Homo sapiens: one gene and its partner. The protein of the gene in region 1 interacts with the protein of each later gene in a pairwise test. Each region holds a gene or a part of one and is shown on either strand. Other genes may lie near its edges.

What was found.
Region 2: the proteins of ITIH5 (region 1) and PPM1D interact in a two-hybrid assay, tested with the Homo sapiens proteins (one large-scale study listed by BioGRID and IntAct).

What each region holds. Positions count from the first base shown.
Region 1 is NC_000010.11:7,660,467-7,663,966, reverse strand, and holds part of ITIH5 (inter-alpha-trypsin inhibitor heavy chain H5 isoform 1 precursor), read left to right. Parts: intron 1-3,500. UniProt on the Homo sapiens protein: May act as a tumor suppressor.
Region 2 is NC_000017.11:60,602,902-60,606,933, forward strand, and holds part of PPM1D (protein phosphatase 1D), read left to right. Parts: intron 1-4,032. UniProt on the Homo sapiens protein: Involved in the negative regulation of p53 expression. Required for the relief of p53-dependent checkpoint mediated cell cycle arrest.

The DNA of each region.
Region 1 (3,500 bases):
TATTATCAAAGCAGTTTTAGATTGACAAAATAGTAAAAGCCACCAGTTATTGAGTATCTGTAATGTCCCAATGTCTCAGGGAGTTTGCTAGGAGCTTTATGTGAAAATAATAAGAGGCAATAATGTATTCTGGTTGAGTACTCCATGTGGTGCCGGACTGCCTGGGCTCATATCTGGACCCCATCACTTACTGCCTGTGTGTACCTGGGCAAGTCACTTAACCTCTCTGGGTCTCAGTTTCATCATCTGCAATATAGAGTTGTTAATAATTCCTACTACATAGGCAGGGGTGGATCTAGGCTTTGGGAGGAGAGTAAAGTTTATACAATTTGCAGGACCCTCTTGAAGGAAAAAAGTATCAAATTATAACTACAAAATTAGGTGCTAAAATGACTATTTATTTAGAAAGATAAAGAAAGCACAACAAATTACACATTTTGACAATCTGACAGGCACCACAAACATCACGCATTTTTAGGGGCTTGCACAAGTGAGGTGTCCTGGAGCTTATGTTTTATTAGCATGTAAATAATAATTTAATTTTTATAAAAATAACAGTTCTGCTTTTATGGTTGTTCGAGGATTAAATGAGTTAATTCAGGCAAAGCATTTGCATATAGTAAACACTTAGGTAATATTAGCTGCTTTTACTATTTATGCACAGCCTAGTTAAGTCTCTGACTACCGCTGTAATGTCTCAATGTACTTATTTGACAAAGGACAACCAGGAAGTCCTTTCTGAGAAGTGACAGCTGCAACAACCTACTATGTGCAAAGCCTGGATTGGAGTGTAGGTGTGCCGAACACCAAAGCTGGGGCTCTCAGCAAATCCTTCAAACAGCAAGCCATGTTCACTTTTATAATTTAGTTGAATTTATTTAAATGTGATTTGTATTTGTAGCTCATGGCACATAGGTGATGTGCAATATATGCTAGTCATAATTCAAACATCTATTGTGGTGATACATTTCTAATTCCCTGAATTGGACATTTCCAGATTTTTAATTTCTTACAAATTCTCACTGAGAAGCAAATTTTTGCATTTGGGGGGGAAAAAAACAACAAAAATCAAGATAGCTATTTTTTTTCAACTCTTTAAAAAACAAAGCCAGTGAAAGATTTTGTAAGCTTCTGGCCATTCAATAACGTCTCCCTTATGTGCAGGGCTGGATTGTTGAAATGAGTTTGTAGGGCAGAGTGCGGAAGGAGTATGCTGTGGGAGAAATTCCAGGGATTTGGTCACTCCCAAAGCAGCCATATGCCATTTCTTGAGGGTGGAAAGGAAGGGTGGGGAAGTCCTGAGAACTGGGTGATGAGCTGTGTGTGACTTGGTGTTCCTAACTAGCACTTTCCCCAAGTCCTTGGATGCTCACATATAAGGCGATCTTGCTTATCATGTCATCAGCGTAGCTGCTGGGAATGCCAGCCGGGTGTTTCTGGATCTGAGGAGCAGTGGAGTAGGTCGATTTAGGAAGATGGGGGACAGAGGATGAAGACCTGAGCTTTTTTTAGGAGGAGGGTTCTGAACCACTCATTATTTTCCCACAAGAAACATCCAGTTCCCTGATTTTTCTTTTCTTTTCTCTGTCTGTCTCTCTCTCTTTTTTTTTTTGAGACAGTCTCACTCTGTTGCCCAGGCTGGAGCGCAGTGGCATGATCTTGGCTCACTGCAACCTCCGCCTCCCGGATTCAAGCAATTCTCCTGCCTCAGCCTCCCAAGTAGCTGGGACTACAGGCACACACCACCACACTTGGATAATTTTTGTATTTTTGTAGAGACGGGGCTTTACCGTGTTGGCCAGGCTGGTCTCGAACTCCTGATCTCAGATGATCGGCCTGCCTTGACCTCCCAAAGTGCTGAGATTACAGGCTTGAGCCACCGCACCCCACCCCTGATATTTTATAGGTAAATAAAATAAACAGGGTGACTTGCCTAATGGCAGTTGCTTTTAAAAAATTTTAATCGGCCAGGCACAGTGGTTCACACCTGTAATCCCAGCAGTTTGGGAGGCTGAGGTGGGCAGATAGCTTGAGCCCAGGAGTTCAAGACCAGCCTGGACAACATGGTTGAAACCCCATGTCTACTAAAAGTACAAAAATTAGCTGGGCATGGTGGCATGCACCTGTAGTCCCAGGTACTTGGGAGGCTGAGGTGGGAGGATCACCTGAGCCCAGGTAGTCAAGGCTGCAGTGAGCTGTAATCATGCCACTGCACTCCAGCCTGGGTGGTATGAGTTGAGACTCTGCCTCAAAAAAACTTAAAAAACAATCTTTCTGGAAATTGTTTGGAATTTTAGCTGTAATATCAGGTTTCTTCTTCCATTACCAAGGTGATAGGCATCCCAAATTGCAAATGATTAATAGCTAAACAAACTTGCAGCAACATTACTTTCAAGGAAGAAAAATTTGGGGTGAGTGATATAGAATTACCCAAATGGGAATATTCTCAGACTAACCGTTCTCAGCCCACATGATAAATGGCATCTCATGTGACTTTCCAACATCTAGCCCTTTGTTCTGTTCCAGGTCCTATAGCAGATCTCTAAGGTAATTGGCCCTTAAGTTTCTCGGTTTGGGTTTCAGCATTTCAGAATGCCCTTAGAAGAATGGGGCCAGGTGGTAGATAAATTCCTTGTACAGATCCCTCTAGGAACGCATGACTTCAGTCAGTTGAAGGTGTTTGGCTGAAGCTGGCCTTGGTGTAATGGCTCTTGGATCTGTTATGGCAGCAGTCCCCAACCTTTCTAGCACCAGGGACTGGTTTTGTGGAAGACAAGTTTTCCACGGAATGGGGGTGGGAGGGATGGTTTTAGGATGAAATTGTTCCACCTAAAATCACCAGGCATTAGTAAGAATCTCGTAAGGAGAACACAACCTAGATCCCTTGCATGCACAGTTCACAATAGGGTTTGCCTCCTATGAGAATCTAGTGCCTGGAGCATTAGGAGGCAGAGCTCAGCCGGTAATGCGGGCTCGCCCACTGCTCACCTGCTGTGTGGCCCGATTCCTAATGGGCCACCAACCTGTACCTGTCCACGCCCCGGCGATGGAGACACCTGTGTTATGGGACCTAGAGTCACGGATACAATGTTATAGCTCAAAAGAAGAATGGAGGATGCAAACCTCGCCTTTACATCTGTCTTTAAGTCAACCGGGTCATTACAGCATCCATACCAAAGGTGGAGTGTCTGTGCTCAAGAATTAGGCTTTGTTTCTCTCCTCCTGCCTCCCATTCTTTCCCATGGATGGACTCTCGAGATGACTCAAGTACCTATCTCTCTTCCTCCCTCAGTCATGATCTGATGCTCCGGTGGATCCTGGGAAGAAAAACACAACCCCTATCAGTCAAATTATAAACATTTAAGCGGCACTGGCAGGTTTTTTTTCCCACCTATAGTTGCACTAATTGATAACGGGGTAGGTTTGGAGATTCCACACTCCACAGCTCTGATGATGTTACTGACACATGCTCGTCCTAAGGAAGCCTTTACCTCACCTTC
Region 2 (4,032 bases), on another chromosome or scaffold:
CTGTAGTTTGCAATCTGCAGGCCAACCCCTTTCCTGTACATATTCAGCCTCTCCAGTAAATTATATTTGTTACACGAATTTCCATTACATTAGTCTCTACTCACCTTTTTTCAGGACACATGGAAATACTCCATTTCCATTTTCTTGGATTCTGCCTCTCTCACCCTGCCCCCCCAACAAGGAAAACTCAAACAAAAATATATCCATCATGTAGATTCCCAGTCAGTATGTTTTCTTCTGTGAAGACTACTTTCTTTTGGAATTGAGCACCCTTTTTTCTACTTTTGTAGTGCTCATTGGATTGTAGTAATAGTTCTCAAACTTTTTGCTCTCAGAACCCTTTATATGCTTATTGAGGACCCCAGAGAGTTTTTATGTGGGCTACATCTTCCAGTATTTACTATATGAGAAATTTAAACTTAGGCAATTTAAAAATATTTCTTTAAAAACAAACTTATATGTTTATATATATATTTTAAAGAAAAAACACTTTTTTCCCCAAATAAGAAATAGTGGTGGGAGGAGTGGGGTTGTTTTACATTTTGCAAACCTCTTTCAATGTCTGGCTTAATAGAGGACAGCTGAATGGCCGGGCGCACGCCTGTAATCCCAGCACTTTGGGACACAAAGGCAGGCGAATCACCTGAGGTCAGGAGTTTGAGACCAGCCTGGCCAACATGGTGAAACCTTGTCTCTACTAAAAATACAGAAATTAGCCGGGTGTGGTGGTGCATGCCTGTGATCCTAGTTACTCAGAAGGCTTAGGCAGAGAGAATTGCTTGAACCCGCGAGGCGGAGGTTGCAGTGAGCTGGGATTGGGCCACTGCACTCCAGCCTGGGCAACAGAGTGAGACTCCGTCTCAAAAAAAAAAAAGACAGCTGAATTATCATATCCACTTCTGCACTCAATCTCTTGCGCTATTTGGTTGAAGTATCTAAAGAAATAGCAGCCCCACATGCATATGTAGTAGGAAAAAGGAGAAATATTTTATTAGTCTTTTCAGATAATTGTGGATATTCTGCACTAAAATGGTAGCTATTTTCCCCCCCAGAGAAAGGTGGAAGAAAAGTAGTTTCTTAAAGTTTGCTGAATTGGAATTTGAAACCTTAGTAATGAATTTCATACTTAATACGTTAAGATCCATTGGTCTATTTTGTACTTTGAACGAATCTCATCCATGTGTGATTTTTGTGACATAGTGCATTAGTTATTTGGAAAATAATGGTTCACTCAGTTAAGAACGTCCTCTGAATAGCAACACATTTCATTATACAATATCAAAGAAAATCATGTTTGTTAATATCACTGATCTCATCAGAAAACTCTTTAAATATTGGGAAGCTATCTAGTTCACTGTTGTGGATACACATTATCCAAAATGTATTTTTCAAGCAACAATTAGAAATGTATCATTGAGAACAAATACTGTCAGTTTTTCTTGAAGCGAAAAGCTCACTTTGTTCATGTTGAAGATGTACACCAAATGCCCAAGTCTTATTAACACAGTTTATCAGTCTCTCAAGTAAAGATGATGGTCCATGAAAAATGTGGCTAGTTCATTACATGACTCAGACAATCACAGGTGCTTTTCCTGTAGTATGTAACAAAAGCCTGTTTATGTAGTCTCCTTTTTGTCATATAGAATATTAAAAAGATATGCAGCCTGGGCAACATGGCAAGACCCTGTTGCTATACAAAATAAAAAATTAGCTTGGCATGGTAGCATGTGCGTGTAGTCTCTGCTACTCCAGAGGCTGAGATGGAGGGATTGCTTGAGCCTGGGAGGTGGGGTTACAGTGAACCATGATGGAGCCTGTGCACTCAGCCTGGGCAACAGAAGAAAAAAGTAGGTATTCATGGGTTGGGATTTAATACAATTAATTTTTATTGTGTCATCAAGGATATTCTTTTTTTAATTTTAGTTTTTGTTTTTTGAGACGGAGTCTCACTGTATTGCCCAGGCTGGAGTGCTGTGGCACAATTTCAGCTCACTGCAACCTCCTCCTCTCAGGTTCAAGCGATTCTCGTGCCTCAGCCTTCTGAGTAGCTGGGACTACAGGCATGTGCCATCATACCCAGCTAATTTTTGTATTTTTTTTAGCAGAGATGGGGTTTCGCCATGTTGGCCAGGCTGGTCTTGAACTCTTGACCTCAAGTGATCCATCTGCCTCGGCCTCCCACAGGCATGAGCCACCACTCCTGGCCAGGAATATTCTTAAGTGAAACTAGCTTGCTTTTTTTGGACTGTAATTAGGTAGCTGTGAAGAATGCAGTGACTAATGGCTCAATCTGGTGCCACTGCCTTGACTCCTGCCAAGGTACCAGTAGTTTACCAGCCATTGCTTTCTACCATCAGTACAAATGTCAGCACAGTGAAAAGGGCAAATAAACTCTTAGAATTATTATGAAAATAGTTTTGGCCTTGTAGAATCCCTATAAAGATTACACAGACCACTGGGAGATGCTAGTCTGCTATAGTATCTGCCTGTCAGCTAAATCTTGAGGTCTTTGGGGCCAGAGATACTGCCTTACTCATCTTTAATTGTTTTAGGATTGGCCACATAATACCTTGCCCAAAGTAGCTGCTCAACAACTAGTTGAGTTTAGTTGAATTTCTGTTGAGTGTAAGTAAATAAATGGACTTTCTTCCATTTTTTAATTAAAATTTCTCCTTTTAAAAAATTGTGCTAAAATACAGATAACATAAAGTTTATACCAGGCCAGGCGTGGTGGCTCACGCCTGTAATCCCAGCAATTTGGGAGGCCAAGGCGGGCGGATCACCCAAGGTCAGGAGTTTGAGATCAGCCTGGCCAACATGGTGAAACTCAGTCTCTATTAAAAATACAAAAAAATTAGCCGCACGTGGTGGTGTGTACCTGTAATCCCAGCTACTGGGGAGGCTGAGGTGGGAGAATTGCTTGAACCTGGGAGGCAGAGGTTGCAGTGAGCTGAGATCACGCCATTGCACTCCAGCCTGGGAGAAGACGCGAGACTCTGTCTCATAAATAAATAAATAAAATTTATACCATTTTAGCCATTTTTAGGTATATAATTTAGTGGCGTTAAGTGTATTCATAATGTTGTACAACCATCACCACTATCAGTTTTCAAAACTTCATCAGCCCAAATAGAAACTCTGTGTCCATTAAATAATATCTCATTGTTTCCCCCTTTCCCATCTCTGGTAACCTCCCCATTCTACTTTGTACTGCTATGAATTTGACTATTCCAGTACTCCATTTAAGTAGAAAAGTGTTCTTTTGTGTCTGACTTATTTTACTTAGCATGTCTTTAGAGTTCATTCATATTGTACCATGAGTCAGAATTTCTGCTGAATAATATCCCATCATATAGATGTATGCATGCCACATTGTGTTTATCCAGTTTTCTGTTGATGGACATTTGGGTTGTTTCCACTTTTTGGCTATTGTGACTAGTACTGCTGTGAACATTGGTGTACAAGCATTTGTTTGCATCCCAGTTTTTCAATTCTTTTGGGTATGAACCTATAAGTGGAATTGCTGGATCATATGGTAATTCTATGTTTAACATTTTAAGGACTTGCCAAACTGTTTACACAGCAGCTGTACCATTTTACATTCCTACCAGCAAGGTATGAAGGCTTCAATTTCCCCATATTCTAACGCTTGTTAACTTTTGTATTAAAAAAAAAAATCCTGATGAATGTGGACTGTCTTACATTTTAAAATTATAGCTTTTCTATGTTACTGAGCCCTTCTTGAATTATTTGGTGTTAAGCTTGACCTCTCTTGTCTTTCTAATGATGTGTACGCCTCCCAAATTTACAAAGGAAAATTTTTTAAATGGCTTATTTTTGTCTTGAGGTAGGGAGATTTGGTAAATACAGTATGGAATGAAAGAGTATATAAATATATTCTTTTTTTGTGTGTGTGACAGGGTCTTGCTCTGTTGTCCAGGCTGGAGTGTAATGGCATGATCAAAGGTCCCTGCAGCCTTGACTTCCTTGGCTCAAGGGATCCTCCTGCCTCAGCCTCTGAAGTAGCTGAGA